2 separate regions of the Homo sapiens genome follow, and region 1 is linked to region 2. Evidence: fine-mapped expression QTL. A gene starts in region 2. The other region holds a variant in brackets. All regions are shown on one strand. Distances are between the middles of the regions.

What was found. PIP is the estimated chance that this variant, and not a neighbour inherited with it, causes the effect. A credible set is the group of variants that fine-mapping cannot tell apart.
Region 1: its variant is the best candidate, but not a certain one, in a credible set for the expression of KIF20B in fetal neocortex (Walker 2019, PIP 0.58).

What each region holds. Positions count from the first base shown.
Region 1 is chr10:89,720,235-89,724,638 of GRCh38, reverse strand. KIF20B (kinesin family member 20B) reads right to left here. Exons shown (of 33, transcript NM_001284259.2): 14 at 536-675. Among named protein-coding and RNA genes, the nearest start is that of KIF20B, 21 kb to the right of the region's middle. The variant G/AACTG (reference allele first, on the strand shown) is at 1,876.
Region 2 is chr10:89,699,141-89,703,544 of GRCh38, reverse strand. It overlaps KIF20B (kinesin family member 20B), which reads right to left and starts at 1,955. Exons shown (of 33, transcript NM_001284259.2): 1 at 1,865-1,955. RefSeq lists enhancers at 1,277-1,793, 1,794-2,309 and a silencer at 2,354-2,433.

The DNA.
Region 1 (4,404 bases), 21 kb before region 2:
CAGCACAAGACTCCATCTCAAAAAATTAAAATTTAAATTTAAAAAAGAGAGAAAATTTAAATAACCATGCATGGGATTAGTTACAGCTATATTCTTTTTTTTCTTCTCTGAGACAAGAGTCTCACTCTGTCGCCCAGGCTGGAGTGCAGTGACACAATCTCAGCTCACTGCAACCTACACCTCCCAGGTTCAAGAGATTCTCGTGCCTCAGCCTCCTGAAAGCAGCTGGGACTTCAGGAACATGCCAGTACGCCCAGCTAATTTTTCTATTTTTAGTACAGACGAGGTTTCACCATGTTGGCCAGGCTGATCTCGACCTCCTGACCTTCAGTGATCCGCCTGCCTAGGCCTCCCAAAATGCTGGGATTACAGGCGTGAGCCACCGCACCAGACCAGTAACAGCTATTTTCAAGCTTGTATAAAGAGATCAGAATTCAGAAGCCACCTAATATAAAAAGTAAACTAAGTAAAAAAAAAAACTAAAAAACTAAATAAAATTCTCAATTTTTACCTGGACATGAAATAAATAACTTACTTAAAGTCAGCTTCCCGTTGAGCCCAATACTGAGTAAACTCCTGTGTAACTTCTTCTCGAATTTTAAATTCCAAGGTTAATTTTTCCTTTTTTTCATTTATCAGTTTTTTTTTCAAGTCTTCTATTAAGTCCAACAGTTTCTATTACATGTAAATGATAAAATTCTTATAAAAGAATAAATATATCCCAAGAGAAATACCGTCCAACTGTTCAAAAAATAAAACTTTACATTTAGTCAATTGTAATTCTGTGTCCTTTTTAATAGTGATAATGTTCTCACTGAAAATTATATGTTTGCAAAGATTTGTTAACTGAAAAATCAGGTTGGCCTTTCCACATTTTAGAAATAGACCTTTGGTAACTCGTCTCACTGTTTAGCTATACTAAGAAAATAAGTAAAGTTAATTAGTGCATTTATTATCTATCAAGAACTACTCTGGGGAGTTCCATATTTGCTTCATTTAATCCACAACTTTCTGTGAGCTTGGTATCATCCATATTTCACAGGTGGGAAGCATAAGGATCAGATCTCTGGTAAATGCTAAAGGTTGAGTTTAAAAGTGGCCTGTAAAAGTCTAAAGCCCAAGGATTGCATACACCAGAGAAGTTGCTAAGAACACCCACTTACTAATCTGTCAAATAAAGATGTTACATAAACTTATATTAGGCTTTTATAACTATCCAGATGTCAACAGCAATTCTATAGCCTTTGAAACACATACATAATCATGAAAAATGTGCAATATATAAATAAAGCAATAAATAAAACACTTAACATGACCATTATACATTCATAACATAAATTGTAGCATTAAGGAAACAGCTACATATTCTTTTTAATGTTTCTATTTAAAGTTACTCAACAACAAATTAAACAATAAACTCTAAGCTACAGATCTTCCAATGTCTCAACTTTATATTTGAAAATAGTTCTACAGCTATCCAGACTTTGAAACTCTGCCTCCAAGAATTTATACTGAAAATAATTATAATATAACCCCATGTTCTGGTTGTATGAATGCTGATCACAGTGTTGTTGTTTTGTGATGGTAGTTGTGTTTAAATAATGAAAAAGTGAACCCAACTCAACCAATGTTAAAGGATTGGTTTAATTATGGTACTACCATAAACTACCGTAATCAATGATAACCTATATTAATAATTCATACTTTTCACAATTTATTTTTATATAAAGAATACCAGGTTACAAAACAGTAATATATAATAAAAATCCATTAACATTCATGGTAGATTTGAGAGATCTTTATATTTAGATTTTCTTTTTCACTCTACTATAAATACATAATACTATTTTAATAATTTTAAACTACATACTTTCT[G/AACTG]AGTAAAACAATAAATAATAACTATTGAAGGAGACATCAGAATGAATGTGGAAAAACCTTGGGAAGTTTGTTTATTTTATTTATTTATTTTTTTTGAGACGGAGTCTCACTCTGTCGCCCAGGCTGGAGTGCAGTGGCTCGATCTCGGCTCACTGCAACCTCCGCCCCCCAGGTTCACGCCATTCTCCTGCCTCAACCTCCCGAGTAGCTGGGACTACAGGCGCCAGAAACCACGCCTGGCTAATTTTTTGTATTTTTAGTAGAGACAGGGTTTCACCGTGTTAGCCAGGATGGTCTTAATCTCTCAACCTCATGATCCACCCACCTTGGCCTCCCAAAGTGCTGGGATTACAGGCATGAGCCACCGCGCCTGGCGGGAAGTTTAATAGTTTTCAATAATTAGGTTTTATCATTGTTAGCATCTGATAAAGTTTTTGCTGAAAAAATTTAGGCTGGCTATTACAGCTAAACGAATTTAAGTATATGTATGCTAATACCAAGGTATTTTATAATGGTTTTTAAAAGTCCCAATCCTTTAATTAAAATGTCAAGAAAGGGCTGGGCACATTGACTCACATCTGTAATCCCAGCGCTTTGCAAGGCAGGAGGATTGCCTGAGCCCAAGGGTTCAAGATCAGCCTGGGCAATAGAGCAAGGCCTCATGTCTACAAAACATTTTTAAAAATTAGTTAGGGGTGGTGGCATGCATCTGTGGTCCCAGCTACTCAGGAGACTGAGGCAAGAGGATCACTTGAGCCCAGGATTTCGAAGCTGCAGTGAGCCATAACTACACTATTGCACTCCAGCCTAGGTAACAGAGCAAGACTTTGTCTCTAGAAGAAAAAAATAAAGCATGCCAACACCTAATCATATTGATTTTTAAATGTCAAATATTAGACATTTTGATGAATTTCCTTAAAATATTTAGTCAATCTTATATGATAAGCATTTATACTATATAATCCATCATAAACTATAGCATTAAATATTTTTCTCTAGTAATTTCAGAAATTTTACTAACCAACATTATACAAAAATTTCAACTTTGAAATGAAAAAAAAAAACTGGGTTTTTTGGTTTGTTTCTTTGTTTTTAAGACAAGGTCTCACTCTGTCACCCAGGCCAGAGTGCAGTAGTGCAGTGATGGCTCACTGCTGCCTAGAAATCCTGGGCTCAAGCAATCTTCCCACTGCAGCCTCCCAAGTAGCTGGGACTACACCTGTGCATCATCATGCCTAACTAATTTTACTTTTTTGTAGAGATGGGGTCTCACTATGTTGCCCAGGCTAGTTTTGAACTCCTGAGCTCAAGCAATCCTCCTACCTCAGCTTCCCAAAGTGCTCGAATTACAGGTGTGAGCCACTGCACCAGCCAAACTAGACTATTAAAGGCTCCTTTCGTCACTGAGGAGGTACTATTTAATACATTACAGAAGCCCAAGTAACACGGTCTAATCACATAGTGACCAGATAAAGTGGGACTTGTACTACATCTGAAGCTATCATTCTTGTTTCCAAACATATGTTCAATAATTGCTTTCAGGGACATGAAGGTAAATTATTAAAATGAGAGTATTTAGCCTAATACATCATCGTTCTACTTATACTTCTGCAATCCAGAAGAGTACTGTGATGTGTGATGTGTCAACACCATTAAAGCACACCCATGAACACAGGTCTACTAGTGTTTGTAGGACACTGGTAAGAGGACTCCATCTATACTCACGGAGTTATGGCCAATTAAAGATGGGAATAGGTGGCCAGGTAAGGTGGCTCATGCCTATAATCCCAGCACTTTGGGAGGCCGAGGCGGGCAATCGCAAGGTCAGGAGTTCGAGACCAGCCTGGCCAACATGGTGAAACCCCATCTCTACTAAAGATACAAAAAAAACTTAACTGGGTATGGTTACGCATGCCTATACTCCCAGCTACTCAGGAGGCTGAGGCAGGAGAATCGCTTGAACCCAGGAGGCAGAGGTTGCAGTAAGCCGAGATCGTGCCATTGCACTCTAGCCTGGGCAACAGGGCAAGACCCTCTCTCAAAAATAAATAAATAAATAAATAAATACTATAATTGGACAGAAGCTAAAAAAACAACCGTTAAATCTTATTTATTTATCATAATAACAAGACGACAAACAATTAGTGTTTTTGAAGATATGGGATCATAGGTACTTGGTAGATATTTTTAACACTTGTACTTGAGACTGCAAAATAAAGGTCTGATGGAATACATAAAATCACTTAGTGAAAGGATACTCACATGGTCTATAAGTAACACCCCACAGATAATATGGTTTTGCAATACAGATCTGAAATACTGTTATCTTAACCAAGTGAGCAAAACTTAGCATCTCTAAGAATGGAAAAATCAGACATCATGTGGCTCTTGGTGTGATGCAATGGAAAATTTACAACTTAACCTACATAAAAAGCTTCCCTAATGTATTAAACCTAAATCATGAAGAAATAATCAAACAAATCTAAATTGCAGGTATTCTATGAGAAAACTAGGACCCACTTTTCAAAA
Region 2 (4,404 bases):
TCTCCACTGTGCAACATCATTTAGGCATGTAAGCCCCTCTATGATTCTTTCCTCCCCGACTCCCCATTCCCCTTGCCCTCTTTCCCCTCTAGATGGTGGCCCCTCACCCTGGTCTAGAAAAGGTCCCAAACTGAGACGGATTTCCTTTGCCTACAATCCTGTCAAAATCCTTGTTTATTCCTGCCATCTTGTTGTCAATCTTTTTCCTTGATCAGGCTGAAATTCCTAAACGTATCACAAGAACATAGTTGACTTTTTTCCCCTAAATTGCAAAAAGACTAAGGAAAGCACTGATCTAGATCATGGGTAAGGGGGTGCAGAGGGGGGAGCATCTGCAAAACGTTAAAGTACCGGCCTGACATTTCATAACACAGAGTTCATGGAAATGCCCAGAAAACTAAAAAACACCTGTGGCTTCAAATAATAATTTTTGGTTTAAAGAAAAGTGTTGATAAATCTTTTAAATTGCTGAATTAAAAAGAATATTCCTATGTACTAAAAGCAGTTATAATAAAGTATTTGTTCATATGCTCATTTTTCAATGAACAAACTACTTCCTAGCATTTCTAAAAGTGTTCAGACTTACTGTAACTTCTTGCGATTTTAGATGACTTCTACTTATACGTGGCCTTCCCAACTAAACTGGAAACTTCTTGATGGCAAGAACCTTGCCTTATACCACTCTGTATCCCCTATAACAAATTCAGCGACTTATGCAGGGATAAAGACTACCTAATGACTTAAAATAATGGTTATAAAGAAAATACTATTCCAAAAAAAAAAAAAAAAGTCGGTCCTAGTCTGTAATATTATCTTTCGTGACAGCAGGCTCCAAGACCTCATTTTTCATTTCAAAAGGCTGCTCTGACTGGAAAACTGCATATTTACCCTCTCTCCAATAAGAATCCACAATTGGAGACTTTGGTGAAAAATAGCAGAATCTGTTGCTGAATGAGGTTTCTGAATGTGGTCTACAACACAAAGCCTCAAAAAAAGTCTTCACAACTAATCGATGAGTATTTTATGTTATTTTTACAATTTAAAATCTGGAGTCTTGGACATGTAAGATAAATACACTGTTACACTACCTAACCCATAAGGCGTGAACTTCTGTAAACTAGTAGTTTAGCAAGAAATATAAGAGAACTGTGCCAGACATGCATCACTGAACCAGCGAGCGAATCGAGATGGAGAAAGCCTTCTAAACTGGGGAATGACAGCAGTCACTGTGCCACAAACTCTTCAGCCTGGCACTGCAAAACCCTAGAAGGGCAAGCCCCAAGGACCAGTAGGAGTAGTCTGGAAATAAGTGCACAGAGGCTACCACAGGGCTCCCCCCGCAAAAAGGCCGTGTTACCTACCAGCCGAGCAAACTGCTCACCTCAGAGCTTCAGAAAACTAGGTGTGGCAAAACAGGCCTGTTCCTCAACAACAACAGAAGCAACAACAATAATAATATTAATAACTGCAAACATTTAGTACCTACTGTGTGCCAGCACTAATAACTTTACACATTACCATTTAATCTTCACAAAAGCCGAAAGAAATAGACACTTCATTGCAGCCTTTTAACTGATAAGAAAACTAAGGTACAGAGAGAGATTAAATGAATTGTCTTGCGTCACTCAGCTAATTAGCAGTGGAGGCGAGATTTAAACCGTAACCGAATTAGTATGACTCATTCCTCGCTGCGTACCCCGTGTTCGCATCGCTCCGCAACCCAGTTCCTGACAGTAACCTCCACTGGGGTATGAGCCCTGTCGGAACATGTCCACATTGCCAAAGCCGTTTCCCCACCTTAGGCCCCATACATGCGCAGTCACCCACCTCCTTCCCCACACATTCCCGCGGGTCACCTCCTCACCTGCAAACTTCGCCTGACTAGCCAGACCCGCGAGCAGCACTGCGATGTTACCGTTTTCAAATTCAAACAATGGCGGCCAGGGCACCGCACTGAACGCTGGGAGTAGGTGGGGCGTCCAGAGCTCCGCCAGGGAGCGTAGCCGGCTCGCGCTGCGGGCTTTCCAGTGGCTACCGGAAGAAGCTCTCCAATATGGGGGCGGGTCTTGAAACGCGGGCAGCCAATGGGCGGAAGCAGGCGTGGGCCGCCCTGGTGCTGACGGTCTGGTTTGCCTCCCAGCTCTGCTAGCCGGGCTTTAGTAGTGCGCTTTCTCGCGGCTGTCATAAGTACCACGCTGTTGACTGGGACACCGATCTCCAATTCTGTCCTTGAGGCAATAAAGATGTGGCGAAGGCCCGAGGTGAGGCCACTGCCACTGCACTTAGTCCTGCGACTCCCCTAAGGACGGGCCGAGGAATGGCGGGCTAGCCACTTCCCAGTCCTGTCCCTACGGGGCAGAAAAAGGCTCGGCATCCCGGGATCCGGAGGGTCACTTCCCTCGCTGCATCCCCATTGTGCAACTGCCAGTCTAAAAATTGATATAGGTAAGCTTATGAATGCTAAAACTAATGAATGCAAGATGCTAAAACAAACAATTAACTGAAAGGTTGTAGGGAAGAGGATGTTAGTATCTCAAAGAATCACCCTACAGATCATTTCTTATTATAAAGGGAAAATAGAATTTTACACTGAAGAGATTTATTAGACATACCTTAACCAAGTGAAGATACTTAGCATCGCTAATATCACCCGATAGTATTTGTGCTAGAAATGTTTGACATTAATCATGAGGAAACAATCAGAAAAAAACAATGTAGAATATTCTACAAGACAACAGGCCTAGGCTCTTCAAAAATGTCAGTGTCATGACAGGAAAAAGAAAAAAACGAAGTGGAAAATTACTTTAGTCGAGAGTCAAAAGAAACCAAATGAAATTTGTGAATCTTGGCTGGTTCATAGTTTTTAAAAAAAAAAAAAAACTTCGAAAGACATTTGTGGACAACTGGGGAAATTTAAATATGAACTACATATTAGATGATATTGAATCAGTTTTAAATTGATTGCATGTGAGAATTAATTTGTGATTAAGTGGAAGAATGCCTTTGTTTTTGGAAGGCGCTTGCTAAAGTAATTAGCAGCAAAGTGTCACAGTGTTTGCGGCTTACCTTCAAAAGATATGGCAAAAAAATAGAGAAAGCAAATGTGGCAAAATATTAGTAATTGGTGAATCTAGTTGAAGGGTATAATGGTGTACATCGTACCAGTCTTGCAACTTTCTAAAATAACAGATTTTATAAAATAAAAAGAGGAGGGGGGAAAAGGAATAGAATTCTGATCTTTACCATGGCCTCCCAGGTCCTGCACAATCAAGTGTCAGCCGACCTCACTCCCCACTAACTGTACAGTAAGTTGATCTGCTCTGGATACCTCAAACACCAACTTCTTTCCAGCATGTATGAACCTTTGCATGGGTTGTTCCCTGTACCTAAATTCTCTCTTCTCCATTCAACACGTGGCACTTCCCTTCATCATTTAGGTTACGTCTAAAATAGTACCTTCTTAAAGAAGACTTTCCTGGCTACTGTATCTCAAGTGAGCACTCTTTTTTTATTTGCAGGTTCAATTTCATTTTTATACTTTTTACAACTAGCAATTGTTGTTGTTCCCCCACCCTGTAAAATCTAAGTTCTGTGAGTAGAATAACTGTGTTTTGTTTGGTCGCTAATGTATCCTCAATGACTCTCTAACACAAGACAAGCAAATCAATATTTGTTGAACAATGAATGAAAGCTGATGTGGCTGGGTAGAGACCATGGGGAGGAGTCAGGGGAGTGAATCTGTAGGCATGGGCCAAGGCCAGACCCTGTAAGCCTTAGCCAAGTTACTGACTTGAGTATTACGAAATGCTTACTGGATAACCAGTTTTAAGCATGGGCATGGTGCAATCCAATGTGCATCTATCTTTTGAAAAGGTTAATCTCCTGGAGAAACTAGAGGCAGCCAGGGAGGATGCTGTTGAACCAGTTAGGAGGCTGTTGCAAGAGATCCCAGGAAAAGATAATGATAATGTGGACTTGGAAGATGGCAGAGGAGTTGCAGAAAAGTATCCAGATTTTAAAGGTACTTTTTCCGACGTTTTTCATTTCAGCACCAGCTGCTGGGTTTTTCCCTTAGGGAGATGCAGAGCCAGCTTGATTGGGAAGTGCTTAAGATTTAGTACCCATTCCAAAGAATTCCATCTGTGCCCTTGAAATGAATATTAACATAAAATGAAAAATTTGGTAAGTTACATCAAGCTGATTTTTCTGCCCTGGCCACAGTCTCTACTGTTAGTAATAGCTAACTTTCTTTATGCCAGGTAGTATTCTTAGCACTTTATACTCATTTAATCCTAACAGTAACTCTGTAAGGCAATTTGTTGTTGTTACAGCCAATTAATAGAAGAGGAAACTGAGGCATGGAGCTAGTAAGGAAATAGTAAAGGTATCTACTAAATAGAAGTG